Linked DNA regions of Homo sapiens. The protein of the gene in region 1 purifies or fractionates together with the protein of each later gene. This does not show direct contact. Each region holds a gene or a part of one and is shown in the gene's direction. Other genes may lie near its edges.

Region 1 (6,963 bases):
TGTTTTCTGTTGAAGATGCTGGAGCTCTAAGCCAGCACTTTAAGGATTACTTGTTTTCTCCAGGTGTTTCCTGTGTATATACAAGAGACGATAGATAGATAGATAGATAGATAGATAGATAGATAGATAGATAGATAGATAGATAGATAGATAATAAACTCCTGTTTGTTTGTTTTTTTCATGAAAATCATTTTTCCTCCCCGCCGTACAAAGGCTTGTCAAAGGCACACTAATGAGCAGCTGATTGGGCTCCTCCAACCGATGAACTCTGTGTTTGGCTCTGTTTGGAAACACACTGAGGAGTCCAGCCTCTTTGGCTGCCACAGGATACATTTCCAGAAACACCTGTTAGGCGTCTGTGGATGAGGAAGGCATCAGGCCTTCCTACCTGAAGCCTTATTGACTCCTGCAAGTGCTAAAGAAACCCCTGGGGACAGGCTAGGCTGCCTGTTCCTACTGGATTTTAGGCCTGGAGACTTCTGGTGGGGGCAGCCCAGGCAGGGAAATCAGGAGCTGTGGACAGGGAGTGGAGGAGATCAGGAGGGGATGGCAAGACCCCCAGCCTGACCCCAGTCCCCAGTGCCCTCTAGCAGCAGAAATAGGAAAAGGAGGTTGAGGGCAGGCAATACTGCAACCTCCTGTGCTGAGCATACAGATAGGTCCAGCCTGGTGGCCCCGCACCTGCAGATTCAAGGCAGCCCTGCCCTGCACTAACCCTGCACCTCCCAGGCCCACTGCTCTCCCACTGTGACCCCATCCGGAGACTGGTCTATCTAAAGACCAGGACATTGACCAGCAGCCCAGTGCTCTGCTCCACGGCCTCTGTCAGGCAGGACGGAGCTGGAGCCCAGGCAGAGATAAGGACAGGGGAAGATGGCCCTTGTCAGCCAGGGATGTTCTGTCCTGCTGGGCATGCGGCCTCTCTCACAGAGAACCTACGTGATCTTGCTTCCCCCACTTTCTTATCTCATAGGCCCTACATATTTGCCAGAAACACCTGCATTCCTAACTCTTTGCCAGATGTCAGGGGCCAGCCGCCAGGGGAACTGCGTGGCAGAGCCCCTGTGCCAATGGCCAGAGAAATTCAGGAGTTCCCAGAAAACAGAGGGTGCTGGAAATCCAGGTGGGAGAGCTGCTCCTTGTGCCAAGATTTTCCTCAGAGGCTCCTTCTCCGGTGCCCTGAGCAGGGCCAAGCCTGGCGAATATTAGAATTTCTGCTGGGCTGAGAAAAAACAGCAAAAGGAGAAGCAGTCTGGGGGGTGACTTGGAGGTGGAAACTGGGTGCGGTCAGAAAAGTGAGTGGAGCCTGGAGGCCAATGAGCACCCCACCCTGGCAAGTCACAGCAGGACAGGGCAGGGGACCAGGCATAGAATTGGGCCAGTTGTAACCTGCACAACCTGGAAAAGGATTTGTATTTGTATTTCATGTACCCATTGGGTAAGGTGGCATTTATCTCCAGCTTCCTTGAGGTGAGCTCAGTTTAGGAAGTTTCTTTTCGACTGAACTGTGTCAGGAATCTCGCCAATGCCTGATGCTGCCCACCACATCTCTTTTGCTGCTGCTGTGGCTGGAACCTGCCTGGGAGGCACCGGCTGTGAAGGCTGGAGACCCAGGGAGGCTGCCCTGACACCTCTCCTTGTTCCCTGAGCCAGGGGGCCCATCTGAGCCCCTTCACCCCTGGGGAGCTGTTTTCTGTGCCTTGTATGAGGTTTTTGTCTTCACAGAAATGGCATTCTAGTAAGAGATAGAAATTTTAAATGGATAGATATGTAAATTATATGGTATGTGTGTTGGGCAGAAGAATTCCCTCTCCAATCCTCAGGATGGCAGATCCAGTCCCTGGAACCTCTGTGTTGGGGTACATGGAAAGGGCGGTGAAAGCTGTGGATGGAGCTGAGGTGGCTAATCAGCTGCCCTGGGAAAACCAGCCATGGAGGGGTAGTGTTCTCATGTAAACCAGGACTCAGCCTGGTGGAGCTGCCTTTGAAGATGAGGAAATGGGGTCCTGAGCCATGGACGTGGGCAGTTGAGCAGCTGGAAAAGGCAAGGAGGAGACAGGTTCTCCCCGAGAGCCTCCCAAAGGAACACAGCCCTGACAGCACAGTGATGATAGCTCCGTGAGACTATTCAGACTTCTGAGCTCCAGAATGGTAAAAGAATGAATGTATGTTGTTTTAAGGCACTAAATTTGCAGTAATTTGTTGCAACCACAATTAAAAGTTAATAAGGTTTGTTTGATTGTTTGTTTATAGGGATAGAGTCTCATTCTGTTGCCCAGGCTGCAAAGCAGTGGCGTGATCTCGGCTCACTGCAACCTCCGCCTCCTGGCTTCAAGTGATTCTCCTGACTCAATAAGCTGAGTAGATGGGATTACAGGCACTGGCCACCACACCCGGCTAATTCTCTTATTTTTAGTAGAGACAGGGTTTCAACATGTTGGCCAGGCTGGTCTCAAACTCAACCTCAGGTGATCCAGCCTCCCTGACCTCCCAAAATGCTGGGATTACAGGTGTAAGCCACTGTGCGCGGCTTACTAAGGTATGTTTTAAAGTGGTCATTGCTTTAGGGGAACAAGTTCAGGTGAAGAAGGTCCAGGATGGCCTGGGCAGGCAGAGGTCTCCCATTATGAAATAGAGGCCTTTACATTTAACAGTGGTTAAGATGAAAAATCACGTTACATGAATCATACCACAATTTTAAAAAAAGAAAGAAAGAAAGAAATACAAGGGTTCCAAATGCGAGGGGCAGGGAGAACCAGGCGTGGAAGGGTGTGCCACCTGGGAGCAGGAGTGGGAGTGAGCCGGGCAGATGCCTGAAGGGCAGTCCATGCTGAAGGGAGGGCAATGCAAAGTCCCAAGGCACGGGGACATCTGCAGGGCTCTGAAGACCAGCAAGGAGGCCGAGGGTGGAGGTCGGAACTGAGCGAGTGAGGGGGCATAATGGACAGCTGGCCAGACTGTGCAGGGCTCTCTAGGCATCTGTAGTGACTTTGGTTTTACTGAGAGAAAAAGGGCACTTTTGGAGAATTGGAGCAGAGGGGGGCGTGAGTGATGAGGTTCTGAAGATCACTCTGGCTGCGCTGTAGCCATTTGGGAGGTGGGGACAGGCACGGAGAACCAAGTAGGGCAGCACTGCAATCACCCTGGCCAGGAGGACGGTGGCCTAGAACCAGGGTCGAGTACTAGATGACAGTGTGGTCAAATCATAGATATTTTATTTCTAGTCCAAAGAAGAGATAAGAAAGAGGTCGAGCAAATAGGTGATTTTTTTTTTAAATTATTCACAGCCTTATAACATAACCTCTAAATCTTCAGTAAAGTTGGCTACATTCACAAGTAGCTGGTGTCACTTTGGTGGGGGCTTTGTAAGGAAGTGGGCAGGGTGTCTTTTAAGGAAGACTCAGGAGAAGTGCTGGTCTTCCAGTTGCAGAGGGGAATGGAGTTGCAAGAAGAAAACAGCGAGGTTCAGTGACACACAGTGCGAACACGAGCTCAGGGGGCAGGAGCTCCAGGTCTCAAGAGGGCAGGACGATAATGCAGTGTTTGCACAGAAACCAAGCAATAGAGGGAGCCAGCACCCACCAGAAATGAGGTAGGGCCGCTGTCACAGCTATGCCAGGACCTGCAGAAGCCTAAACCCTGAAAAAAGGTGGGGGCCCCCACCTACATATCAAGGAAAACATATGTATGCCATCACATGCTGGTCTCCAACAACTGCTAAAATTACATTAAATCCTTTCTAGAATTTCGTGGCTGGGACTTGAGTCTGGTCTTGGTCCTTCTACTGATGGTGAATCCAGTACTGAATTGGATCCAATTCTGGACGAGTTACCCTGTCCTAGAATCACTCACACGTGACAGTTGACAGGTGGCCCCACCCGGTTTGCATGGTGGACGGGTGTTCTGCTAGGCCGGCCTCTCCACACCCAGAGAGACTGAACTGGTTTCTGCTCCTCAGAGAGTTTGCACAGAGACTCTGAGGAAGCAGTCACCTCAGGCCTCTCCATCCTAGAGACGGCAGAAGGACAAACATCTCCTGCTGGCACAAGGTAGGGGGTGGGGGATGGCTGGTGTTCCAAACACCCGTGCAGAGGGAACGTGTGCATGTTTGGGAGTGAAGGAGGAAAGCAGGGGCTCGAGTGGTGAGAGAACCAGGGGCAGATAATGAAGTAAAAGTGGGGTTGGGGGAGATGCTGGGGGTGTGGCGGCGGGGACGCTGGATAAGGCAGGGAGGACGGGGTGGCTCTGCGGGTCCTCTGCCTCCACACCAAGCACTCAGGGATCCGTGCCTCCTTCCAGTCTGGAGTCCCAATCGCCCCTCTCTCCAATTTGGGGGACAGGGATTTCTCCTTGTTCTCCTGCCCTAACTCCTTCTTTCCGACTTCTCTTGTCCCATTCTCCCTCAGATCCTCCCTTCCGCTTATGCCAAGGCTTCCACAGCCTCGCTCTGCCGGGCCTTGGCATTCCTAGCCTGAGTGTTGAAACCATTGGCCGGGACCTCAAGGCAGCTGGGGCAGGGAGAGGACGGTTAGAAGCCCAGGGCACACTGCCACAAAAAGGCTGTGACTCATTTTCAGGGATTGAAAACTGCAGTCCAATTCATTTTAAAATTTTCGTCTCTCTTTGGACTTCAGGCTGAAAGTTCTTTATAGCAACGGGCTTCCAGGGACTATGTGAAATTATTGGTTTCACTTTCCTTATCACCCGCTTCTTACTTCAATTAAAATTCCATTTCAGCCGGGTGTGGTGGCTCACTCCTGTAATCCCAACACTTTGGGAGGCTGAGGGGGGAGGATTGTTTGAGCCCAGGAGTTCGAGATCAGCCTGGGCAACGTGATGAGACCCCATCTCCACACCAAAAATTTAAAAATTAGCTGGGTGTGGTGGCTCATGCCTGTAGTGCCAGCTATTCTGGAGGCTGAAGTGGAAGGACTGATTGAGCCTGGGAGTTCAAGGCTGCAGTGAGCCGTGCTCATGCCACTGCACTCCACCTGGATGACAGAGCAAGACCTGGTCTCAAAAAACAAAACAAACAAAAATCTACTTCATATGTAACCATTACTTCAGTTTTGAAACCATTGCCTGAAGCTGACATTTTGCAGTTGGAAAATGGCTATTCCTTCCCATCTTCAGGTTGGCTCAGGCCAAGCTGAGATTCAGGACCACAGAGGGCAACAAAGGTGGAAGGGCCCCTTTCCCCTTTCTGTATATTTTTCCCAGCCTGTCTGCAGCTCTTTCTTTTTCTTCAGTGTTAGGTTGGCATCCCAGATGTCAGGACCCAAGTATAGGCCTGGTGTGCTCCTTCCTGTGAGTCATCAGACTTGTAGAAAATATTGGCCCTGCTAAGGAGCTACTCAGTGGTCATATCACACATATGCACGCACACACACACAAGCACCCATGCACACACACACACACACACACAAACACACACATACACTCTGTTCTTGGCCCACCCCCGCTGGTGTCCCCACAGCAGCAGTATTGGCAGGGCGGTAGCAGTGAGTTCCTCTCTGTGTACTCTCAGGGCCTGGATGTGTACAGAACAGGCTCCACTCAGGACAGATTTGAGACCCCTTCTCCAGACCAAGAGGTGGAAGTGCACCCTCAAAATTGAGGTTCTTTAACCTTAGCAGACAGAGAACCACATAGGGGACATGTAAAAAATGTGCATTCCTCGGCTCCTTCAAACGCTTGACCCACTGTCCTCTGAGCAGACAACCCCTTATCCCCCAGCCCCAGAGATAGAGCCCTGCCGATAGTCCATGGTTACTTTCTTTGAAGTCTGTTCCATCTAGTTAAGAAAGGACAGTGGTAAAGACCCACTTACCTTACCAGGCATCATAAGGGCCCTAGCATCTGAGTCACAGGATGTCACCCTCTGGGTCTGACATGCACTTGAATTAACTGGCATACTGCCCGGCACACAGAGGGAACCTAGATGTGGAACGGATATGGGTGGTGTTACAGGCCGCATGTTTGCCTGCCTTCCAAATTCATATGCAGAAATCCTAATTCTCAAGGTGATGCTATTTAGGAAGTCATAACTCATGTGAGTGGAGCCATGTGGGATTAAGAAGTGATAGGAGAGCTTGCTGTCTGTCTCTGCTCTCCACTGTGTGAGGATACAACAGGAAGACAGCCATCTGGTGAGGAAGAGAGGGCCCTCGCCAGATACCGGACCTGCTGACACCTTGATCTTGGACTTCCCATCTTCCAGGAAGGTAAGAAATAAATGCTTGGTGTTTCAGCCACCTTGTCTATTCTGTTGTAGCAGCCTGAACTGGCTAAGGTAGCAGGGTCTGATGATCAAATGGGACAGCTGTAAAAGTGAGGTGGGAAGGGGGTCTACAGATACTAAGTTTTATGAGGAAAACTTGTGCTTTATTTGAAAATGACACAAAATTTTGTTCTAAGAAAAATTTTCAGAATTCAAAACTTAGAGCCCTAAGACTTTTCCCAATGATAGACTTGGCTTTCCTTGAGGTCTTGGCCCCAGTAGGACTGCTGGAGTCTATTACAAAACTCATCTGGAAGGACCTCTGCCGTTGCTGAGGCTTGAGGAAATGGTTTTAAGGTCACAGTGTAAACAAAACTGCTGGGAAGTTGGAACTGGGCGGAGCCCACTGCAGCTCAGCAAGGCTGCTATGGCCAGACTGCCAGATTTCTCCTCTCTGGTCAGGGCATGTTGGTAAACAAGGCAGCAGCCCCAATCAGGGGCTTATAGCAGACTTAAATGTCCCCGCCTGATGGCTCTGAAGAGGGCAGCAGACCTCCCAGCACAGCATTCGAGCTCTGCTAAGGGTCAGACTGCCTCCTCAAGTGGGTGCCTGACACCCACGTATACTGACTGGGAGACACCTCCCAGTAGGGGCCGACAGACACCTCATACAGGAGAGCTCTGGCTGGCATCTGGCAGGTGCCCCACTGGGTCAAAGCTTCCAGAGGAAGGAACAGGCAGCA
Region 2 (7,025 bases), on another chromosome or scaffold:
AAAAAAGAAAGAAAAAACAAATGGAATTTGTGGGCATTTTTAGGCTACCAGAGATCACAATCTTTTTTCACATTTTAAAAGGCTCATTCTTGCTGCTGGGTAAAGAGTGACTGGGAAGGGGCCAGAGAGGAGCAGTTAGATTGTCATCCTTTAGGCTTCCCCAGCATCCTGTGGGTGTCTTTATCAATGCGTAGCACACAGTTTTGCAGTTATTTGTTTTGCATGTCTGTTTTCTCCACTGGACTGAACTTCTGAAGATAAAGACTCTCTCTCATCTCCATACCCCCAAAACCTGGCATCTCATTACTAGATGCTTAATAAATTTGTTTTTTTTTTTTTTTTTCAGATGGAGTTTCATTGTTGTTGCCCAGGCTGGAGTGCAGTGGTGCGATCTTGGCTCACCACAACCTCCGCCTACTGGGTTCAAGCAATTCTCCTGCCTCAGCCTCCCAAGTAGCTGGGATTACAGGCATGTGCCACCACACCACACATATTGGTCAGGCTGGTCTTGAACTCCTGACCTCAGGTGATCCACCCGCCTCGGCCTCCCAAAGTGCTGGGATTACAGGCGTGAGCCACTGCACCCAGCCAATAAATGTTTTATGACTCAAAGAATAATTATAAACAGAGGGAGACCAAAGTATTACAAGTCATTAAAGAATATACTTTTAGATATTTTCATACTAATTATATCTAATTGTGATATAGGCACAAGATCTAGCTTTTAAAGACTTGCATTTTTCAGATAAAAACCCTGAGTATTGCTTTAGTATTGTGATCCTATCTGAAGACAGGTTTGTTGAATCTTAATTCTTGTTTATAGTATTTTATTACCATTTTTTTTACTAAGAACACTGTCAAAACTTTTTAGTATTTCTTTAGACCATCTCATTCATAAATCAACACTTACTGTTGATGCCTGTTCTGTGTGAAACCCTCAGTGGAGGAAATAGCAAAGAACTAGAAGTCATGGTCTCATTTGAAGGACTGTACTTCTAATTCAATAAAAAATGTAGAAAACATCATTTTTAGTATGACCAACATGGAGAAACCCTGACTCTACTAAAAATACAAAATTAGCCGGGCGTGGTGGTGCATGTCTGTAATTCCAGCTACTCGGGAGGCTGAGGCGGGAGAAGCACTTGAACCCGGGAGGCAGAGATTGTCAGCCAAGATGGCGCCATTGCACTCCAGCCTGGGCAACAAGAGTGAAACTGTCTCCAAAAAAAAAAAAAAAATCAAATCTTCTTTATAACTGTAAGAAAATAGTTATCTACAACTTTTTGCTTGATTTTAACCTAATATATTCTTTTTTTTGTTTTTGTTTTTGTTTTTTTGAGACGGAGTTTCACACTTGTTGCCCAGGCAGGAGTGCAGTGATGCAGTCTCGGCTCTCAGTCTCTCAGGGTAGGTAGCAGGCTTTTTTTTTTTTTTTTTTTTGAGATGGAGTCTCACTCTGTCACCCAGGCTGGAGTTCGGTGGCATGATCACGGCTCACTGCAACCTCCGCCTCCTGGGTTCAAGCGATTCTCCTGCCTCAGCCTCCTGAGTAGCTGGGATTACAGGTGCGTGCCACCGTGTCTGGCTAATTTTTGTAACTTAATATATTCTTAACCATTACATTCTATTTTAGGTATCCTGAAGCAGTTTATGTTGTTTATACCGGCGATGTTAATGTCAACGGTCAACAGATACTAGAAGGTGCTTTCAGAAGATTTAACATCAGATTAATTCACCCAGTGCAGTTTGTTTTTTTAAGGAAACGCTATCTTGTGGAAGATTCACTGTATCCTCACTTCACACTGCTGGGCCAAAGTCTAGGATCCATTTTTCTTGGCTGGGAAGCTCTAATGCAGTGTGTTCCTGATGTTTACATTGATTCAATGGGATACGCTTTTACGCTTCCTCTGTTTAAGTATATAGGGGGTTGCCAAGTTGGAAGCTATGTTCATTATCCTACTATCAGCACCGACATGCTCTCTGTAGTGAAGAATCAAAATATTGGATTTAATAATGCAGCCTTCATTACCAGGAATCCTTTTCTCAGCAAAGTAAAGCTCATCTACTACTATTTATTTGCTTTTATTTATGGACTTGTTGGTTCTTGCAGTGATGTAGTCATGGTCAATTCTTCTTGGACACTAAACCATATTCTCTCACTATGGAAAGTTGGGAATTGCACTAACATTGTTTATCCACCTTGTGATGTGCAGACATTTCTGGACATTCCCTTACATGAGAAAAAGATGACCCCAGGACATTTGCTGGTTTCTGTTGGCCAGTTTAGGCCGGAAAAGAATCATCCATTGCAGATCAGAGCCTTTGCTAAATTGCTGAATAAGAAGATGGTTGAGTCACCTCCTTCGCTTAAACTTGTCCTCATTGGAGGTTGTCGTAACAAAGATGATGAACTTAGGGTAAACCAACTGAGAAGGCTGTCTGAGGATTTAGGAGTTCAAGAATATGTGGAATTTAAAATAAACATTCCATTTGATGAATTAAAGAATTATTTGTCTGAAGCAACAATTGGTCTGCATACCATGTGGAACGAGCATTTTGGGATTGGTGAGTTTGGCCTTTAAACAACTTGTTTGGTGCCATGAGATACACATTTTAAGTTCTTTTGATAAAATGATAATACTCTGGAAATCTGCATCATGCCCTAATTCTCTTGCCCTCATCCACCAAATGTGCTTTCCTCACTTGAGACCTTGTAAGATAGTAGTTAATAATAGCAGCTAGTATTTATTGACCAATTCCTGTGTGTGGGCCACTGTGTTGAGATTTTTACATGTATTATCTAATTTAAGCCTTTCTAAACCCGTTTGATAGGTGTTATTGTTATTCCCATTTTATAAATAAAGAAACTCAGGCACAGGAAGGTTTAGAAATTGCTCGAGTTCAGTTACACAGTAAGTGGTAGAGCCCGGATTCTAACCCAGATAGCCCCTGCTCTTAACAGCAACATTTTCTCTCTCCATCTAACCCCACTACATACTTACTGGTACAGATTCCTGGGCCCTACCCTAATCCTACAGAATGGCCAAATGAGAATCTCTGGACAAGGCCCAGGTAGATGTATTTTGATAATGCTGCTTAAGTGATTCTGTTATGCATCAAAAGTTGAGAACCACTGTTTGCATAGGGGCTTCTCACAGTAACTCTTTTAGTCTTTTATTGATTCTACCCTCACCATTGGAATGGCTCTCCTCTTTGTGCCAGATTGCATCATAAGTCTTCAACTTAAATCTCCTTGCACTTTAGCCTTTCTTGTTTATTCTGGCACAAACTGCTATCTCTATTCTGACCTGTTAAGCACACATTTTGCTATAAAATCAAGTACTGCTTTGTGTTTAATTTGGGTCCACATATATTTCTCAAGCGCTTTGTGCCTCACACTGTTAGTTGTTAGGGGAAATGAGGATAACATAAAAGTGACATTTCCTAAACTAAGACTTCAATTTCTCTTATACTCTTTTTACTCCTAGTTAGTAGTGTAGTGCTAGGCCCAGACATTAAGCAAGAACTTGTTGACCCAACCTGTTGCATGGGATCTGACCTCCTGTGCTTCCTTCCATAGAAACTTACTAAGCATTCACTCTGCTGAGCGCTTGGGTGGATGCTAGGGATGTGGTGGAGACAGGAGCTGCTTGGCCTGTCAGAGGCTTCCCACCCTCTGGTGGTACCAACAGGCTACACAGGCAAGTGCCGTGCCGTGCTGTGCCGTGTGCCAGGTGCTATGCTAAGGAAGTGCAGGGTGATGTGAAAGCGCCAAAGAGAAACCTAACACAGACTTGTGCGGGCAGGGAACAGTTGCCCAAGGAAATGATGTGACACTTGAGCAGGACCCGAACAATAGAGGTTAGCCAGGAGAGAGGGGAGAGTCTCCAGCAGAGGGAACAGCACTGTGACAGGAGTGACAACAGATGCATCAATAGGAACATTCAGCAGGAAGACAACAGAGAGGTGATATAGGCCAGGTTAAGCCAGTGGAAAAAAATAGCAGGATTTTAAGTATTGCACGTAAAAGCTTTCTGATTTCTCCAGTCCATTCTGGCCACATGGGGAGTGGATCAGTGAAGAGCAGGGAGAGCAAGACTGGAAGGGCAGTAAGATGAGCCGGCCTACTGTAGCAGCCCAGATGGAGGTGCTCATGAGCTGAACTTCGTAGGTGAACATGCTTGAGAAACATTCTGCAGTAGTATTGACCAGGACTTGGTGATTAACTGGATGTGTTAAATGAGGGAGGAAGAGAAGACTACCTAGGGTTTTGGGAGCAGGGCAGCTGTGAGAATGGTGTTGGCTTTCTCCCAGAGGGGAAATCCAAGAGCAAATGCCATTAATGAGCCAAGTTTTGAACCTGCAGAATTTGAGTTCATCTGTGGGACATGTGAGGGCATGCGTCCAGGAGGTAGTTTTGTATATAGGAGTCTGAAGTTGAGAGGAGTCTGGTCTGGAAATAAAAAATGAGGATTGTCCTTGTGCAGGTAGTTATCAAAGCTCCCGTGGATGTGGTTAAGATCGCCTGGGGAATATGTACAGAGTGAAAAGAGGCTCTCAGTACAAAATGCAGAGAACAGGAACAGCTGAGAAATGGGGAGAAGAAATGGAGAGGCGGGGAAAGCCATCCAAGTGCAGTGTCTTAGAAACCAAGGAAGAGAGTGTTTGGAGAAGAATGGAGAGGGCACAGATTCCGATGCTGCCCAGATGCTGGGGAAGGTAAGGCAGTCACTGGTGACCTGGGCAAGAGCAGTCTTGAGGGAGAAGTAGAAGCAAAAGTCAGACTATGAGCAAAAATCAAAAGTCAAGCACTCAGAAGTGAACAAGTAGAGTTGGTAAGTGCAAACCACACTTTCAGTAAGTTTATCTGTGAAGTACGGGGAGGGGGAGAAGAGACAGTGGCTAGGGGTGGGTGTTGCAGGACCTGAGAAAGGGCATGTGGTGCCCTAGCTTCCTAGCTGATAGGAAGGAGCCAGTAGAGAGGGAAAGGGTAAAAGATGCAGGTCTCTGAGAAAGTACAGGATGCTCTCCAGCTTCAAGCAGAATATGATATGAGCTACTGAATTCTGTTCTGCAGGGATTTCACCAGTTCTAAAAACATTTGGAATGATTTAATTTCTCTCCTATACATCCAGGATGATATCAGCTCTGTACCATCCTTCAGATAATTGGGAAAGCAGTCACTTGAATCATTCCCTGAAGGGCTTAATTCTCCTAGGAATATGGCTAAGAAGGGCTGGCTAGAGTAATTTATATTTCATGTGTATCATTTGGCAGAAACTAACCACAACTTTCATTTAGTTCAGCACTGTTGTTGGGCATGCAGTAGTCTCAAATATGCCAGAAATCCAGGCAGTAACATAAGCACGGCGATAGTATGCTTCACTTAGGTGATTCACTTTTTTATTTTTTCTGCTAATGTAATTTGAACTATTAAAATTGTTTTTTATATGTTTTTACTCCTTTTGTTTTTCTAATACCTGTTAATATTCTACCATCTTGCTAACATTCTCTAGTCTTCTTTTTTAATTATCTGCAATATATCTTTTTTAATAGGCTAGTCTTCCATCTACTTGTCTATTTTAACTAAGAATAAAGCAGCAGGCTGGGTGTGGTAGCTCACGCTGGTAAATCCCAGCACTTTGGGAGGCCAAGATGGGAGGACCACTTGATGCTAGGAGTTAGAGGCCAGCCTGGGCAACATAGTGAGACCCTATCTCTTAAAAAAAAAAAAGTGAAGCAGTATTATTATGAAGCTTTGAAAACTAAAAAACTTAAAATTATTTTATCTTGTACTGTAGAAGTTGAATAAGCAAATGTCTAGACATACATTTAATTAAGTTTCTCATAAGTCCCTTAAATTTTTTGAAGATTTCTATTCATCCTCATTCTTATGAACACACTCAAAAACTTAAAAGATTACATGATTTGTGTTTTTTTTCTCAGGAGTTGTGGAGTGTATGGCAGCTGGCACAATTATCCTTGCACACAATTCGGGGGGCCCAAAGCTTGACATTGTGGTTCCTCACGAAGGAGATATAACTGGCTTTCTGGCTGAGAGTGAAGAAGACTATGCTGAAACTATCGCTCACATTCTTTCCATGTCTGCAGAAAAGAGACTCCAAATCAGAAAAAGTGCTCGTGCATCTGTAAGCAGATTCTCTGATCAGGAATTTGAAGTGACATTCCTATCATCTGTGGAAAAGTTATTTAAGTAATGCCATATCTGTAAAATTAAAGATATTTTATATAAACTGGTTAAACACCTTCATATGTAAATATTTTTCTAAATTCAATCTCATTTGTCAAATCATTTTACTTTAGAAAACAGACAAAATTTCCTTTTAGAATAAAAGGAAGTGTTGAAAAGAAAATGGATGACTAGCCTTCGGCTTCCATTCTTGGTATACATGAGAGAGGCTGGCTGCTGAGATGAATGTGAACCAGGTTGCAGAGAATCTGGCTTTGAGCCACCAGGAAGAACTAGTGGATTTGCCAAAAAACTACCCCTTGAGTGAAAATGAAGATGAGGGGGACAGTGATGGAGAGAGAAAGCATCAAAAGCTTCTGGAAGCAATCATTTCCCTTGATGGAAAGAATAGGCGGAAATTGGCTGAGAGGTCTGAGGCTAGTCTGAAAGTGTCAGAGTTCAGTGTCAGTTCTGAAGGATCAGGAGAAAAGCTGGGCCTTGCAGATCTGCTTGAGCCCGTTAAAACTTCATCTTCTTTGGCCACTGTAAAAAAGCAACTGAATAGAGTCAAATCAAAGAAGGTGGTGGAGTTACCTCTTAACAAAGAAAAAATTGAACAGATCCACAGAGAAGTAGCATTCAGTAAAACCTCACAGGTCCTCTCCAAATGGGACCCTATCATCCTGAAGAACCAGCAGGCAGAGCAGCTGGTTTTTCCCCTGGGGAAGGAGCAGCCAGCCATTGCTCCCATTGAACATGCGCTCAGTGGCTGGAAGGCAAGAACTCCCCTGGAGCAGGAAATTTTTAACCTCCTCCATAAGAACAAGCAGCCAGT
Region 3 (7,025 bases), on another chromosome or scaffold:
GACAGTTTAGAGTTCCAAGTAAGAAACTTATAAATGAAGTTGATAGTGACAACTTTATAAATTGAACTAATTACCCTTGATATGAGAATAAATTGTTTTAATCCAGTTAATATATGCATATAGTTTTAAGAGAACCAAAAGGCTTTTTTTTTTTTTTGAGACGGAGTTTCGCTCTTGTTGCCCAGGCTGGAGTCCAATGGTATGATCTTAGCTCACCGCAACCTCTGCCTCCAAGGTTCAAGCGATTCTCCTGCCTCAGCCTCCCCAGTAGTTGGGATTACAGGCACGCATTACCATGCCCAGCTAATTTTGTATTTTTAGTAGAGACGAGGTTTCTCCATGTTGGTCAGGCTGTTCTCAAACCCCCAACCTCAGGTGATCACCCACCTCAGCCTCCCAAAGTGCTGGGATTACAGGTGTGAGCCACCGCATCCGGCTTAAAAGACTTTTGACAAACACAGCAGGCTCTTGCTTTTGTCTTTTTTATCCCTCAGGCTCTACTTTCCAGGGGTAGCTACTACCTCAGCTAGGTCTGTTTATTTTTTCTTCCTCTTTTTTTACTTTCGTCATTCTAAATCAATGTAGAATAAGTCTTTGACTTTCTAGTATCATAACTGAGCTCTTTCTCATTTCTCTCTTAAATCCTCCAATGTAGTTACGTAACTTTTTTGTAAAAATAGCAGTATTTACATTATTGTGTACACAGGTATTGCTAAATAGTGACTTATGATTTTTTTTATACATTTTTGTTTTTCCCACAGCAAATAATTGCATTTTATCAAAATTGCGTTTTGATTCGTTACCTATTTATCTTTGGCTGTGTTCCCTCAACTACTCCAAGAAGTATGTTAAATGCCTTTTGATTTTTTTTTTTTCCAGGTAGCACATTAAATCATCTATCAGTGCCACTTGGTTTCCTCTTAGAGACTTCTTGGTCTGGAGCATTCCATCCTCTTGCTCCAATCTAGATAGTACGATTATTTTTTCTGGGACTTCCTGTTACTTCTTTCCTGTCTTGGAACCTCTGTTTTTTAGATCTCCTGTCTTCCTTTTTCTTGGTTTGCTTCATTTTGCTACTATGTATGTATCCTCAGTAGCTTCTTAGGAAGGAATGATGGGAGATAAATTACTTGAGGCCTTGAATGTCTGAATGTATCTATCCTGTCCTCATACTTTATAGATGGTTTGGCTGAATTTAAAATATTAAGTAGAAATACATTTTTTCATAATTTTGATGGCATATTCACAGTTTTCTGTCTTAAGGGTTTTTGATGAAAAGTCCAAAGCCATTCTGATGCCTCTTTTTTTCTGTTTTTTTGAAGCTCAGGTTCTTTTTCTCTGGCATTCTGAAGTTTTATAAGTTTTTGTGTGGTTGGTTGGTTGGTTCTTTCCTTCCTTTCTTCCTTTTCTTTCTTGTATTACCTTAGTGGGTCCTTTCAATCTAGAGACTCTTTTTAGTTTTCAGAAATGCTTTTTTTTTTTTTAATAATTCCCACCCTTTATTTTCTCTCTCTCTGTGTGTGTGTGTGTGTGTGTGTGTGTGTGTGTGTGTGTGTATTTCTTTCTGAGATGTCTGTTGGTTTGGTTGTTGAACCCACTACAAATGATCTTTAAATTTTCTTAACTAATCTCATGTCTTACGTATTTCTTTGTACTGGAAGGAGTGGGAGGGGGGGAATGGTTCTCAATTTTAATGATCATGTTTTTAAATTTTAGAATCTTTTTCTGTTTCCATTTCATTGCATCTTATTTTATGGATGTATTATCTTTACTTATCTCTGATGTGTGTATTTTTATTTTTTCTTTGTGTTTAATATATTTTTAATATTTCTTCTGTTTCCTCCAGTGTGGTTATTCATTTCAGGGATCTTTTCTTTGTTTGTTTAAGTCATAAATATCTGGTGATCCTTGACTGTCTATAATGAAGAAAAAGATCCTGAGGAGCTGATTGCAGAGGAGAGAACATGTGTGTATTGGTGGTCTAGTGACTTGTGAGTTCAGGTGGACTTTTCATTGGGAGTCTGCCCCGAATATCAACACCTTTACATCTCGTTTGGGGCCAGTGTTCACAATGAAGAAATCATCATCTCCTGCCTCTGGTATGCTTGGTGATATGCCAGCTGCCAGGGTTTGGGTTACCTGGCTGAGGGAGGGATGGAGGCTGTAGCCTTCGACTTCTGGCTACAGTTCTCCTGTCACTGTGATTCAGTTTCTTCAGAAAAAACTTTGGGTTTCCTGCTGGAACTGGGGATCCAAAAGCTTTGAACACCTCTTTCGGTGGCTCCCCCCTTGTCTAGGCTAAGCCTCACATCAGCCTTTGGCATCTCCTTGGTGCCTCAAGACCTGAGCCTCTTGGAGGTCCTGAGGGGCAGTGACCATTCCTTCAAGTACTTTGCCATCTTGCAAAAGTTTGTTTAAAAAAGCATGTTGTCTTTCCTTTTCTGTTTGTCCTTATGGTTTGATGTCTTTGTGATTTTTTTTTTTTAAACTATCATTTTAGAGGAATTTTGGAAGGAAATGGAGGTAAGGGATTATGGTCATTCCACAATGTGTAAATGGCAGTTAGGGTTTGGGTTTAACTATTGAAGATGACGTGTGGCAGTCTTTTTATATGAACAATATTACGAGTAGTTAATGGTGGTTGTAGTAGTAGTTGACACTTTTAAAAGTGCTGTCTTTTGTCTGTGTGGGGCATAGAGGTCATCCCTGTGTTATGTACTGTCATTTCCATTTTATAGATGAGTGTTAGTCTGCTCAGGCTGCTGTAACAAAGTACCATAAATTGGGTGGATTGTAAACAACAGAGATTTATTTCTCACAGTTTTGGAGGCTGGGAAGTCCAGGATCAAGGCTTTGGTAGATTTGATATCTGCTGAGAGCCCTCTTCCTGGTTTATGGATACTGCTTTCTCCCTGTGTTCTCACATGGTGGAAGGGGCAAACGAGCTCCCCTGGGTCTTTTTATAAGGGCTCTAATCCCATTCATGAGGACTGCTCTTATGAGCTAATCACCTCCCAAAGGGCCCTACCTGCTAATACCATCCCTTAGTGGTTAGGATTTCAACATAGAAATTTTGGGGTGACACAGAGAAATGAGAAAACAATAATCTTAGAGTAGGTATGTATTAATGACTAGCCTGGTTTTTTGGTAGTAGTAGGGCACACGGTCCTGATGGAAGTGTATAAGTTCTGAAACACCGAAAGCTTCAGAAGCTTTTAAACTCTGGTTGGCCTTCCTGTGTTCCTGGGCCCTGGTTCATCGCTTGCATTTACAAGCCTGTTACTTGCATAACAGGCTGCAATGTAGGCATTCATTTCTGCATTTTACTGATGAGGACCCTGATTCAGGGCCTTTTGGACAGTGAGTAGAAGGCCAGGTCTTGACTCAGTCCTGCCTGAGACCTGAATTCATACTGTCTCTTTATCAGCTCTGGAGGAGTGCAATTAACCAAAAACTCAAAGAGTAGAACCGCAAGCCTCCTGCCACAGGTGCTTGTTTGTGGTCTTTATTATTATGCTAATTATTCTTGCATCCTCCCATGTTCTTTAATTGATAATTTTCATTGTACTGAGCTCTGTGGAATTCCGGAGCCTGTGAAGGTGGCATATGGCTGGGCAGTGCCAGAAGCTTGGGAAGAACATGCTGGTGGGTGGGTGGGGAATGGTATAAACTGGTTATGCCAACAGTGGTGGTGGTGATAGGGGTCAGGGGGACTTTTGGGAAGAGGCCCCATCTCCCACCAGTTAGAAATTAACTTTGGATAACTTGCTTCTCCTCTTAAAATAAATATCTTCTGGAAAAGTCAAGAATGTTCACATTTTATTTAAAATCAAGTCAATACTAGTTGAAATCACTGTGTCCCAAATCAGTCCAGAAAATTTTTTTGAAGCTAAACCAAGTACCATATATTGTGGTAGAAAATGACAATTCAAAATTATTACACTCCTTTCCCTGAAGATCTCAGAATTTTGTAGGGGAGACTTGCATTTATGACTGTAACAGAGATAAGAGTTATATTGCTGGTTGACATAAGTTATTGTAGGAGCACTTACTTTTGACTGTGGAAAGGGCGGAGGGGAGACAGGCTTAGAGAGTTTAGGAAACTTGTCCCAGGGAAAAAAAAGACATTTGAGCCTCATCTTGAAGGATGAATTTGATAGGCAGAAAAGAGCAGTTCATACCAGGCTGAGAAAGTAGTGTGAACAAAGACATAGAGGGTGGAAGCAGCTGTGTGAAATTGTGGGGTAGGAAAAATCTAATGTGGCTGAGGTGAAAAATTAGCAAAGCCATGGAGCGCCACAGGATAAAGCTGGAAGGTAGGCTGAGGTTAGAGTAGGAATTTGAACTCTTACAGGTGAATTCTTCAGTGAGCTGCTAAAGAATGCAGACTAGGAGAGTGCGCAGTCAGGTCTGGGTTATAGGGAAGATAACTTTGGCCCCAGTGAAAAGGATGGCTTTGGAGAATGAAATGCTGGATCTGGGAAATGAGATAGAGCCAACCTTGTGATGATAAGAGGGATCAACTAAGGCAGTTGAAGGGGTGGGATGGATTTGTGAGGAATTTGGTGAGTTTGGAGAAGACTTAGTAGAAGAGACTTTAGGGCTAAAGAAAGGGGAGGAGTCACAGAGGAATCTAGGGTTTCAGATTTGGGCAACTGAACCAAAGGACCCTTTCCTTTTGGGAGAAGTGGTTGGTCAAGGGAAAGAAAAAGGAGATGAACCATGTATTCCTCTCCTCCCAGCACCCCTCTCTCCTAAATCTCAGAGCCCATGCTTGGTGGGGAGGAGGGGTGGAGGGTTGAAGGTGTCCTCTGCCCATGAGTCTGGCATAACCTGCCAGAGGGCCCAGATCCTGGGTGGGTTTTTGGGAGGTTAGCACTCTGCAGCAAATCCTTAACCCTAGGCGTTTTGGTGGAGTTGGTATTTATTTGAATCCATGTGTTCTTCATTGGGAGACAGGCAGAGACATTGTGCAATTGTGGGTTTGAGGGTTGTTTTTTTTCCTCATGCTACACATGTGAGAGAACTCTATCCAATTATGGCTAAACCTGTCCCCTGTGAGTCACATCCTGAGTTGACTGGTCAATTCCAAAGGTGCTGCCTAAAATGCTGTTTGGATTTTAAGAATCACTTTTGGGACAAATCAAACATGTGAGTATTTATTCAGGCACCTGAGTTGAGAAGTTCCATAGCATTACTTTTGGTGTTTTGATGCAGTTACGCCAATGTTCTGAAAAATCTTGCCAGCTACACATCCTAAAGCAAAACAAAAACTTGTACATGAAACAGAACCATTAGCTACTCTAAAATTATGTCACACTTAAAGGTATACATTTTTGTGCGTTGTTGATGTAAATCAAGTGCAATATTTTCTAATAAAAATTTTATTAAACAGCATTCATTTGTGAAGGTCCTCTTAAAATGTGCCAAAATAAACGTGTGTGTATTGCTCAGTTACATAATAAACAGTTGTTGAATGATTCTTTTTGTGTGTTCAGCAGTGATAATGCTGAGTGGATTTCATAGGTCTCATTCTTATCTTTTTTTTTTTTTTGAGACGGAGTTTTGCTCTTGTCACCCAGGCTGGAGTGTAATGGCATGATCTCGGCTCACTGCAACCTCTGCCTCCTGGGTTCAAGCAATTCTCCTGCCTCAGCCTCCTGAGTAGCTGGGATCACAGGCGTCCACCACCATTCCCAGCTAATTTTTGTATTTTTGGTAGAGATGGGATTTCAGCATGTTGGCCAGTCCAATCTTGAACTCCTGACCTCAGGTGATCCACCCACCTTGGCCTCCTTTCAAAGTGCTGGGATTACAGGCGTGAGCCACCTTGCCCGGCCTCATTCTCATTCTTATATAAATTTTAAGCTGGAATAGACAGCACACAAGTCTCTAGTTAGGGATCACCTGTAATTTAGGGAGGAGGAGGAAGAGCGTATCTTGCTGTATGCCAGGTACTTTACATATGTTCTCTTTTATCAACCATAGGAAGTCGGTGGCATTGACTGTTTTTTGTTTGTTTGTTTTTAAACAGATAAAGCTGAGATGCTGAGGTTGTGGGCAATTAACAGAATTTGCTGTAGGTCACAGAGATGTGTGGGGCTATGTGACTCCAAAGTGCGTGCTTTCTCTACTGTGCTGCCTTTGAAGGTTGACAGTTGACTTAGTCTTTAACCAAAATCATCTGAGAAGCTTTAACAAACTACAGATTCCTTGACCTACCCTGAGCAATTTGTTGAATTGATCTGAGATGGGGCTCAGGTAAATTAACGTTTTGAATGCCATGTTTAATTAATTACAGGAGGTACAGGTTTTCCACATTTGAACGTCTCTGAAATCAGAACCATGTTATAATCAGTGGGGAGAGTCATCAGTTAATAGCTTTTTTCTTTCTTAGTGGCACAAAAAATAAGGATGTACTTTAGATTAAATGAAATATGATATTATAAAAAGGTGATACTGTAAAGGGAACTTAAATACATAGTTTGTCACCTTTCTTTTTTTTTTTTTGAGATAGAGTCTTGCTCTTTCTCTCAGGCTGGAGTACAGTGGTGCAATCTCAGCTCACTGCAGTCTCTGTCTCCCAGCTTCAAGCGATTGTCGTGCCTAAGGCTCCTGAGTAGCTTGGGACTACAGGCGTGCACCACCACGCGTGGCTAATTTTTGTATCTTTTTTTTTTTTTTTTTGGTAGAGATGGCGTTTCACCATGTTGGCCAGACTGGTCTCGAACTCCTGACTTCAAGTGATTTCCCTCCCCCACCAACCCTGTCTGGGCTTCCCAAAGTGCTGGGATTACAGGTGTGAGCCACCATACCAGGCCTCCACCTTTTTTATGTGCATATGCATGTGTTTGTCACAACTTTCAGAATTGTAAAATTCACTGGTGGTATTTATTATTTGCTTACAGCAATAGCTGTGTAGTAATGCCCTTGCAGGGAAATCATAAAATGAATGAGATATTGTCATTAGATTAAGAGCAATAGCAAGGTTACTTTTCAGCCAAGAAGCTGCAGGCAAGGAGAAA
Region 4 (7,025 bases), on another chromosome or scaffold:
TGTCTGTTAAAAATACAGTTTTATTTCTTCCATTATTTTATTTTATTTTTTACAGAGGTGAGGTCTCACTATGTTGCCCAGGCTGGTTTTGAACTCCTGAGCTCAAGTGATCCCCCTGCCTTGGCCTCCCAAAGTGCTGGGATTACATTGTGTGAGCCACTGTACCAGGCCTCATATTTCTTCCATTCTAACTTTATACCTTTTATTTCCTTTTCTTGTCCTGTTATGCTAGCTTAGACTTCCATTACAATGTTGCACAGGAGTGGTTAGAAGGGACATCTTGTCCATTTCTGATTTTACTTTCTAACCATGAAATATGATATTAGCTATTTTTTGGTAGATATTCTTTAGCAAGTTGAGGAAGTTTCCCTTTTATTCCTAGTTTGCTAAGAGTTTTTCATATGAATCAGTCTTGGGTTTTGTCAAATACTTTTTCTGCATTATTGGTATGATCATATAATTTTTTCTTTAGCCTGTTGATATGATGACTTACATTAACCAATTTTTGAATGATAAGCCAGCCTTGCATATGTGTAATATGCCTCTCTTGGTTATGGTATGTAATTTTTTCTGTATTGTTGGATTATATTTGCTAATATTTTCTTGAGGATTTTGTATCTACTTTAATGAGTGATATTGATCTGTAGTTATCTTTTCTGGTAATGTCTTTATGCGGTTTTGGCAGTAGGATAATATTGGGCTTGTAGAATAAGTTAGAATGTGTTCCCTCTGTCTACTTCTACTTTCTGGAAGAAATTGTAAAAAACTGGCATTATTTATTCCTTAAATGTTTAGTAGGATTAACCAGTGAAACCATCCGAACCTGGTGCTTTCCTTTTTGGAAGGTGATTTTTTTCTTCTTCTTTTTTTTTTTTTTTACTAGTTATTGACTCAGTGTCTCCTTCCTTCCTTCCTTCCTTTCTTTCTTTCTTTCTTTCTTTCTTTCTTTCTTTCTTTCTTTCTTTCTTTCTTTCTTTCTTTCTTTCTTTCTTTCCTTCCTTCCTTCTTTCCTTCTTTCTCTCTCTTTCTTTCTTTCTTTCTTTCTTCCTTTCTTCCTTTCTTCATTTCTTCATTTCCTTCCTTTCTTTCTCCCCTCCCCTCCCCTCCGCTCCCCTCCCCTCCCCTCCCTTCCCTTCCCTTCCCTTCCCTTCTCTTCCCTTTCTTCCTGCAACGTCTTGCTTTGCTGTCCAGGCTGGAGTGCAGTGGTGCGATCATGGCTCCCTGCAGCCTTGACCTCCTGGGCACTAGCGATACTCCCACCTCGGCCTCTGGAATAGCTGGGACCACAGGCATGCACCACCATGCCCTGCTAATTTAATTTTTTTTTTTTTTTTAAGAGATGGAGTCTATGTTGCCCAGACTCGTCTTGAACTCCCTCGGCTCAAGTGATCCTCCCACCTTGGTCTCCCAAAGTGCTGGGATTACAGGCATGAGCCACCATGCCTGGCCCACTAAAGCACTTCTTTTTATGTTTCTCGCACAGCAGGTCTATTGGTGAAAGGTTTGTCTGAGAAAGTCTTTATTTATACTTCACCTTTGAAGGAAAATTTTTCTGGATATAAGATTCCATGTTGGTGTTTTTCTCTTTTTTAAGTTTCAATGCTTTAAATATTTCACTTCACTCTCTCCTTGCTTGCATTGTTTCTGACAAGAAGTCCAGTGTTGTTCTTGTTCTTCTATATGTAAGGTGTGTTTTTTTTCCTGTGACTTTTTTCTGTCTTTCTTTTCCCTCCCTCCCTCCCTCCCTCCCTCCCTCCCTCCCTCCCTCCCTTCCTTCCTTCCTTCCTTCCTTCCTCTTTCTCTCTTTTCTTTTCTTTTCTTTCTTTCTTCTTTTGAGATGGGGTCCCACTCTGTTTCCCAGGTTGGAGTGCAGTGGTATGATCACGGCTCATTGCAGCTTCACCCTAGTGGGCTCAAGCCCAAGTGATCCTCCCACCTCCGCCTTCCAAGTAGCTGGGGCCACACGCGGGTGCCACTAAGCATGGCTAATTTTTGTATTTTTTGTAGAGATGGTGTTTCATTATGTTGCCCAGGCTGGCCTCGAACTCCTGAGCTCAAGTGATCCACCTGCCTTGGTCTCTGAAAGTGCTGGGATTATAGGAGTGAGCTACCATGCTTGGCCATCTTTGTCTTTCTAAAGTTGAAATATGATATGGCTAGACGTGGATAGGCATATTTGGATATTTATCATGCCTGGTATTCTCTAAGCTTCCTGGGTCTTTAGTTTGGTGTCTATCATTAATTTTGGAAAATTCTCAGCCATTATTTATTCAAATTATTTCTTCTGCTCCTTTCTCTTTTCTTCTTCTTGTATTCCCATTATATATCTGTTACACCTTTTGCAGTATCCCACAGTTCTTGGCTATTCTGGGGTTTTTTTTAAATTCTTTTTTCTCCTTGTATTTCAGTTTGGGAAGTTTCTTTTTTAAAAATTGTTTGTGATAGGGTCTTGCTCTGTATCCCAGGCTGGAGTGCAATGGCGGGATCTTGGCTCAATGCAACCTCTGCTTCCCAGGTTCAAGCAATTCTTGTGCCTCAGTCTCCTGAGTAGCTGGGACTACAGGTGTGCACAACCATGCTGGCTAATTTTTGTTTTTTAAGTAGAGACGGGGTTTTGCCATGTTGGACAGGGTGGTCGCCAACTCCTGACCTCAAGCAATCTGCCCACCTTGGCCTCCCAAAGTGCTTGGATTATAGGTGTGAGCCACCACACCGTGCCCAGTTTGGGAAGTTTCTATTAACATCTTCAAGCTCACTGATTCTTTCCTTGTCAGTTTCTTTTTTTTTTTGAGACGGAGTTTTGCTCTTGTTGCCCAGTCTGGAGTGCAGTGGCGTGATCTCAGGTCACTGCAACCTCCGCCTCCTGGGTTCAAGTGATTATCCTGCCTCAGCCTCCCAAGTAGCTGGGATTACAGGCATGCGCCACCACCCCTGGCTAATTTTGTATTTTTAGTAGAAATGGGGTTTCTCCATATTGGTCAGGCTGGTCTCGAACTCCTGACCTCAGGTGATCCACCCACCTCGGCCTCCCAAAGTGCTGGGATTATAGGTATGAGCCATTGCGTTCAGCCTCCTTGTCAGTTTCAAGTCTACTGTTGAACCCACTGAAGGCATTCTTCATTTCTTTAATGGTGTTTTGAGCTCTAGCATTCACTTTTGGTTCGTTCTTAGCATTTCCATCACTCTGCTTATATTATCCATCTGTTTGTGCATGTTATCTGCTCTTTCTGTTAGTGCTCTTAACATTTTAATTATAGTTTTTTAAAATTCCCTATATGATAATTCTAAAATCTGTGTCATACCTGAGTCTGGGTCTGATGTTTGCTTTGTTTTTATGTATTTTTTAGCCTTGTAATTTTTTAGTTGAAAGAGAGATATTATGTATCAGGTAATAGGCTTTTATTATGCGGCCTTATGTTAATTTGGCTAGGAGCTGGGTTGTGTTTAATGCTTATTGTAGCTATAGGTGCCAGAGACTTCAGTTTCTCTAGTGTTTTTTTCTCTCCTTTCCTATTGTCTTTGGGTTTCCTTATGAACTCCTTAAATAGGTTCTGTGCCTTGTAGCTCTCTCACTTATAATCTTCTGTTATTATACTGGAGCCCTGTTGATGTGGTAGTAAAGTGTTGGAGGAGAATCTGTTTATACTTTTATGATTAAATCTTATTCTTTTAGTGGCCTGAGCCTCTGGACTGTGGCCTTCAGAAGTGTTTCTTAGCCTTTTCTCTTTCTCTCTTCTTAAGTAATACAGAAAGGCTATAGACAGCTGGAGTTGGCTAATTTTCTTCTCTCAGGTCAGATAAGGCTCTGACATCTTCCCTTGAGATGGAGGGAATAATCTAGGTATATTTTAAAATGATTACTTCTTTCCATCCCCCAGAAAGAGGAGGAGATTTTTCTTGGCTCTTTACTGTGAGAATCTGGTGGGGTTCCTGGAAGTAAAACTCATGACAGTGTGATAGCATCCCCAAGACTGGGTCCCGAGGATGAAAACCCATGAAAGTGTGGTAAGCATCCCTAAGACCAGGACCTGAGGAGGTTTTTATTCTCAAGCTAGTCCACACTCATCCTTTAGCAGTTTGTCGGAGTTACTGCTTAAGTACTTCTACTGGTTTATGACTCCAGCAGCTTCTGCATGAGGTGATTTGATCTTAGCTGTAATTTTCTTAATCTCCTTCTTTCTCCAGTTTTCTGAGTGGCAGTTTGCCCTGTCACTTCAATTCTCTGAGGAATCTAAGAAAAGCTGTTGATTTTCAATTTGTTCAGCTTTTGTTCTTATTATAGGGTGGGAGTGATGACCTCTCATGTGAGAGGGAAACCTGGAAGTCAATAGTGGCTTTGGAAATGGCAGTTTATTTTTCTTTCACACTAATGTAGCCAGCCCAGGGCAGATATGGCAGCTAGCTCTGTGATCATCTGGGACCCATGATCCTTTTATCTTGTCACTCTGCCATCTTCAGTATGTATCGTCCACCTTGTGTTTGGAAATGGCTTATCCATCTCCAGTCATCACATAGTATTCCAAACATTCTGCAGGAAATAAGGAGAGAGAGAGAAAGAGACAGTCTTTTAAGACATCCTTTTAGTTTAAGGATACTTCCTAGAAGTTGCTCTTGCCACTTTTGCATAAATCCAGGCCTACTAGACCCCTGAGTTTGCATGACCAAACATACCTGCAGTGGAGGTTGGGTGATACAGGTTTAATCTGGATATGTCATGGCCAGCTAAAAATGCACAGAATGGAAATTGAAGAGCAATTAGCAGTCTCTACCACAACAGTGTTCCAAGGCTTTCCTCAGATTATGAAAGGTGTCTGTTTCACAACACAGCTTAAGAAAACTCTGCTTTACAAAATTGCTGTGAGAGTTGTGGTCACAGCATGTCAGTACCCGGTTGGCACTGGCACCAACATACCCAGAATATTTAGCCCAAGCTGACTTGCATTCAGTCACTCACATGTCCTGAAGGCTTACCATGGCTCAGATGTCAGGCTGATAATAAGCTAATCCCTCCCTACCCTTAAGGAGTGCCCAGTCTGGTATTGTAAATCTCCAGCTCATTGCTGGACATGGTTGCAGCATTTTTAAAGAGTAGGCATCCTGTGTTTTTTGTCTTATCTGGCTACAGGAGCAGTGATGCATAGCTGTGAGGGTATGGTAGAAGCCAGTTAGCATAAGGTGTGGTGGGGATAAAAGGGTGCTGGGCCCAACTCTGTATGATTTTTTTTCCCTGACAGCTTCCCCAGCCAGCAGATTGTTGCTGGATCAAGTGGGCATGAAAGAGAATGAAGACAAATATATGTGTGAGTCAAGTGGGTTCTACCCAGAGGCTATTAATATAACATGGGAGAAGCAGACCCAGAAGTTTCCCCATCCCATAGAGATTTCTGAGGATGTCATCACTGGTCCCACCATCAAGAATATGGATGGCACATTTAATGTCACTAGCTGCTTGAAGCTGAACTCCTCTCAGGAAGACCCTGGGACTGTCTACCAGTGTGTGGTACGGCATGCGTCCTTGCATACCCCCTTGAGGAGCAACTTTACCCTGACTGCTGCTCGGCACAGTCTTTCTGGTAAGGGTCTTTCTGGACATTTCTTCTCTTCCTTGCCTTGAGGGACTATAACATAAGACTTATTCCCACACAGCCTGGGTCTTAGCTGGGGACTGAAGGGGAAACAGAGAAAGCTTGGACTGGAAGGACCAAGCTGGAGTCTGGCCTAGCTCAGCCCCAGAGTCAGCAGTCCAGCCTAGGTCCCTACACCTGGGCAGATGATGGTCTTAGTAGGTGGAGAGTGGTGACTGTAGTCATCAGGTGGAGCAGGGCTATTTGTCAGCTCATGGCAGCTTCAGGGTTTTGGATGGTCCATATGGCTTGAAATAGGAAACCTGCCAGTTGCTAGGGGAATGGGGACAGTATCCTACCCGTGTTCCCTGAGGATAAGGGGCTATCAGGGGCCAGGGACCAGTCCTGCTAGCAGCCCTTCTAATAAGGCTCTAGGTCCACTGTAAACTGTTGGCTGGTAGAGGCTGACTCAGTAGTCTTGTCTTTTTTTTTTTTTTGAGATGGAGTTTCGCTCTTGTTGCCCAGGCTGGAGTGTAATGGCGTGATCTCAGCTCACCACAACCTCTACCTCCCGTGTTCAAGCGATTCTCCTGCCTCAGCCTCCTGAGTAGCTGGGACTACAGGCATGCACCACCACGCACGGCTGATTTTGTATTTTTAGTAAAGATGGGGTTTCTCTATGTTGGTCAGACTGGTCTCGAACTCCTGACCTCAGGTGATCCGCCCGCCTCAGCCTCCCAAAGTGCTGGGATTACAGGTATGAGCCACAGCACCCGGCCAGTAGTCTTGTCTTATGGGCTGTGTCCCAAGATGGGGAGGGCTACAGTAGAGTGGTTCTGCAAATGCTCAATGCCTTCCCCAGGCACACTGGATCCTTAAAACACAGTTCACGGCAGACCCACTCCTGCTGGTGGGCTGGGGCTTTTTGAGCTCATATGCCTTGGTCATAGCTCTGGTCTTGGGTGTGGGTGGCTCTGCTGGTAAAATGCATCTCCCTGGGGCTGAGAAGAGTAAGGAAGGCAGGGAGTGACTGGGGCACTGAGGAATGTGGTCAGGCAATGCCATATGGGGCCCAGGATGATCCTGGGGAGAGAGGAATTATTCTTGGAAGTTAGGACTAGGTGTGTGTGTGGGTGGCATGTGCAGGGATGCAGGGAGGGTATGTGTGTCCATGGGGAGTATGAAATGGAAATATACCTTGCATGTATGGTACGAGGGGTTGTCTATGTGGTATGCACATAGGGATAGAAGATGGTGTCGTATTACACAAGGTTTGAAGATGAGGGTAGCACAATTATGTGGTACGTGGTGTTCATCTTCCATATTTTTGGCAAGTGCTACATACACTGTTTGATGTATGGAGGTGTATGTGATAGGAATGGAGATGCTGAGACATGTGGCAGAGGGCTGGTGGTTAAATCTCTGACAAGGAGGATGACACAACCACACAGTTCCCAGCAG

What was found.
Region 2: the proteins of RAET1E (region 1) and ALG11 purify together in Homo sapiens (affinity purification with mass spectrometry; 2 studies listed by BioGRID and IntAct, with this or other methods). This does not show direct contact.
Region 3: the proteins of RAET1E (region 1) and RYK purify together in Homo sapiens (affinity purification with mass spectrometry; 2 studies listed by BioGRID and IntAct, with this or other methods). This does not show direct contact.
Region 4: the proteins of RAET1E (region 1) and NCR3LG1 purify together in Homo sapiens (affinity purification with mass spectrometry; 2 studies listed by BioGRID and IntAct, with this or other methods). This does not show direct contact.

The regions. Positions count from the first base shown.
Region 1 is NC_000006.12:149,895,107-149,902,069, reverse strand, and holds the start of RAET1E (retinoic acid early transcript 1E isoform 1 precursor), read left to right. Parts: upstream 1-3,956; 5' UTR 3,957-4,049; intron 4,050-5,830; exon of another isoform or gene 5,831-5,937; intron 5,938-5,939; exon of another isoform or gene 5,940-6,037; 5' UTR 6,038-6,224; intron 6,225-6,963. UniProt on the Homo sapiens protein: Binds and activates the KLRK1/NKG2D receptor, mediating natural killer cell cytotoxicity.
Region 2 is NC_000013.11:52,022,373-52,029,397, forward strand, and holds part of ALG11 (GDP-Man:Man(3)GlcNAc(2)-PP-Dol alpha-1,2-mannosyltransferase), read left to right. Parts: intron 1-1,633; coding exon 1,634-2,565; intron 2,566-5,946; coding exon 5,947-6,218; 3' UTR 6,219-6,432; coding exon of another isoform or gene 6,433-7,025. Other genes in the region: UTP14C (U3 small nucleolar RNA-associated protein 14 homolog C), read left to right, coding at 6,433-7,025. UniProt on the Homo sapiens protein: GDP-Man:Man(3)GlcNAc(2)-PP-Dol alpha-1,2-mannosyltransferase that operates in the biosynthetic pathway of dolichol-linked oligosaccharides, the glycan precursors employed in protein asparagine (N)-glycosylation.
Region 3 is NC_000003.12:134,240,835-134,247,859, reverse strand, and holds part of RYK (tyrosine-protein kinase RYK isoform 2 precursor), read left to right. Parts: intron 1-7,025. UniProt on the Homo sapiens protein: May be a coreceptor along with FZD8 of Wnt proteins, such as WNT1, WNT3, WNT3A and WNT5A. Involved in neuron differentiation, axon guidance, corpus callosum establishment and neurite outgrowth.
Region 4 is NC_000011.10:17,361,775-17,368,799, forward strand, and holds part of NCR3LG1 (natural cytotoxicity triggering receptor 3 ligand 1 precursor), read left to right. Parts: intron 1-5,234; coding exon 5,235-5,573; intron 5,574-7,025. UniProt on the Homo sapiens protein: Triggers NCR3-dependent natural killer cell activation.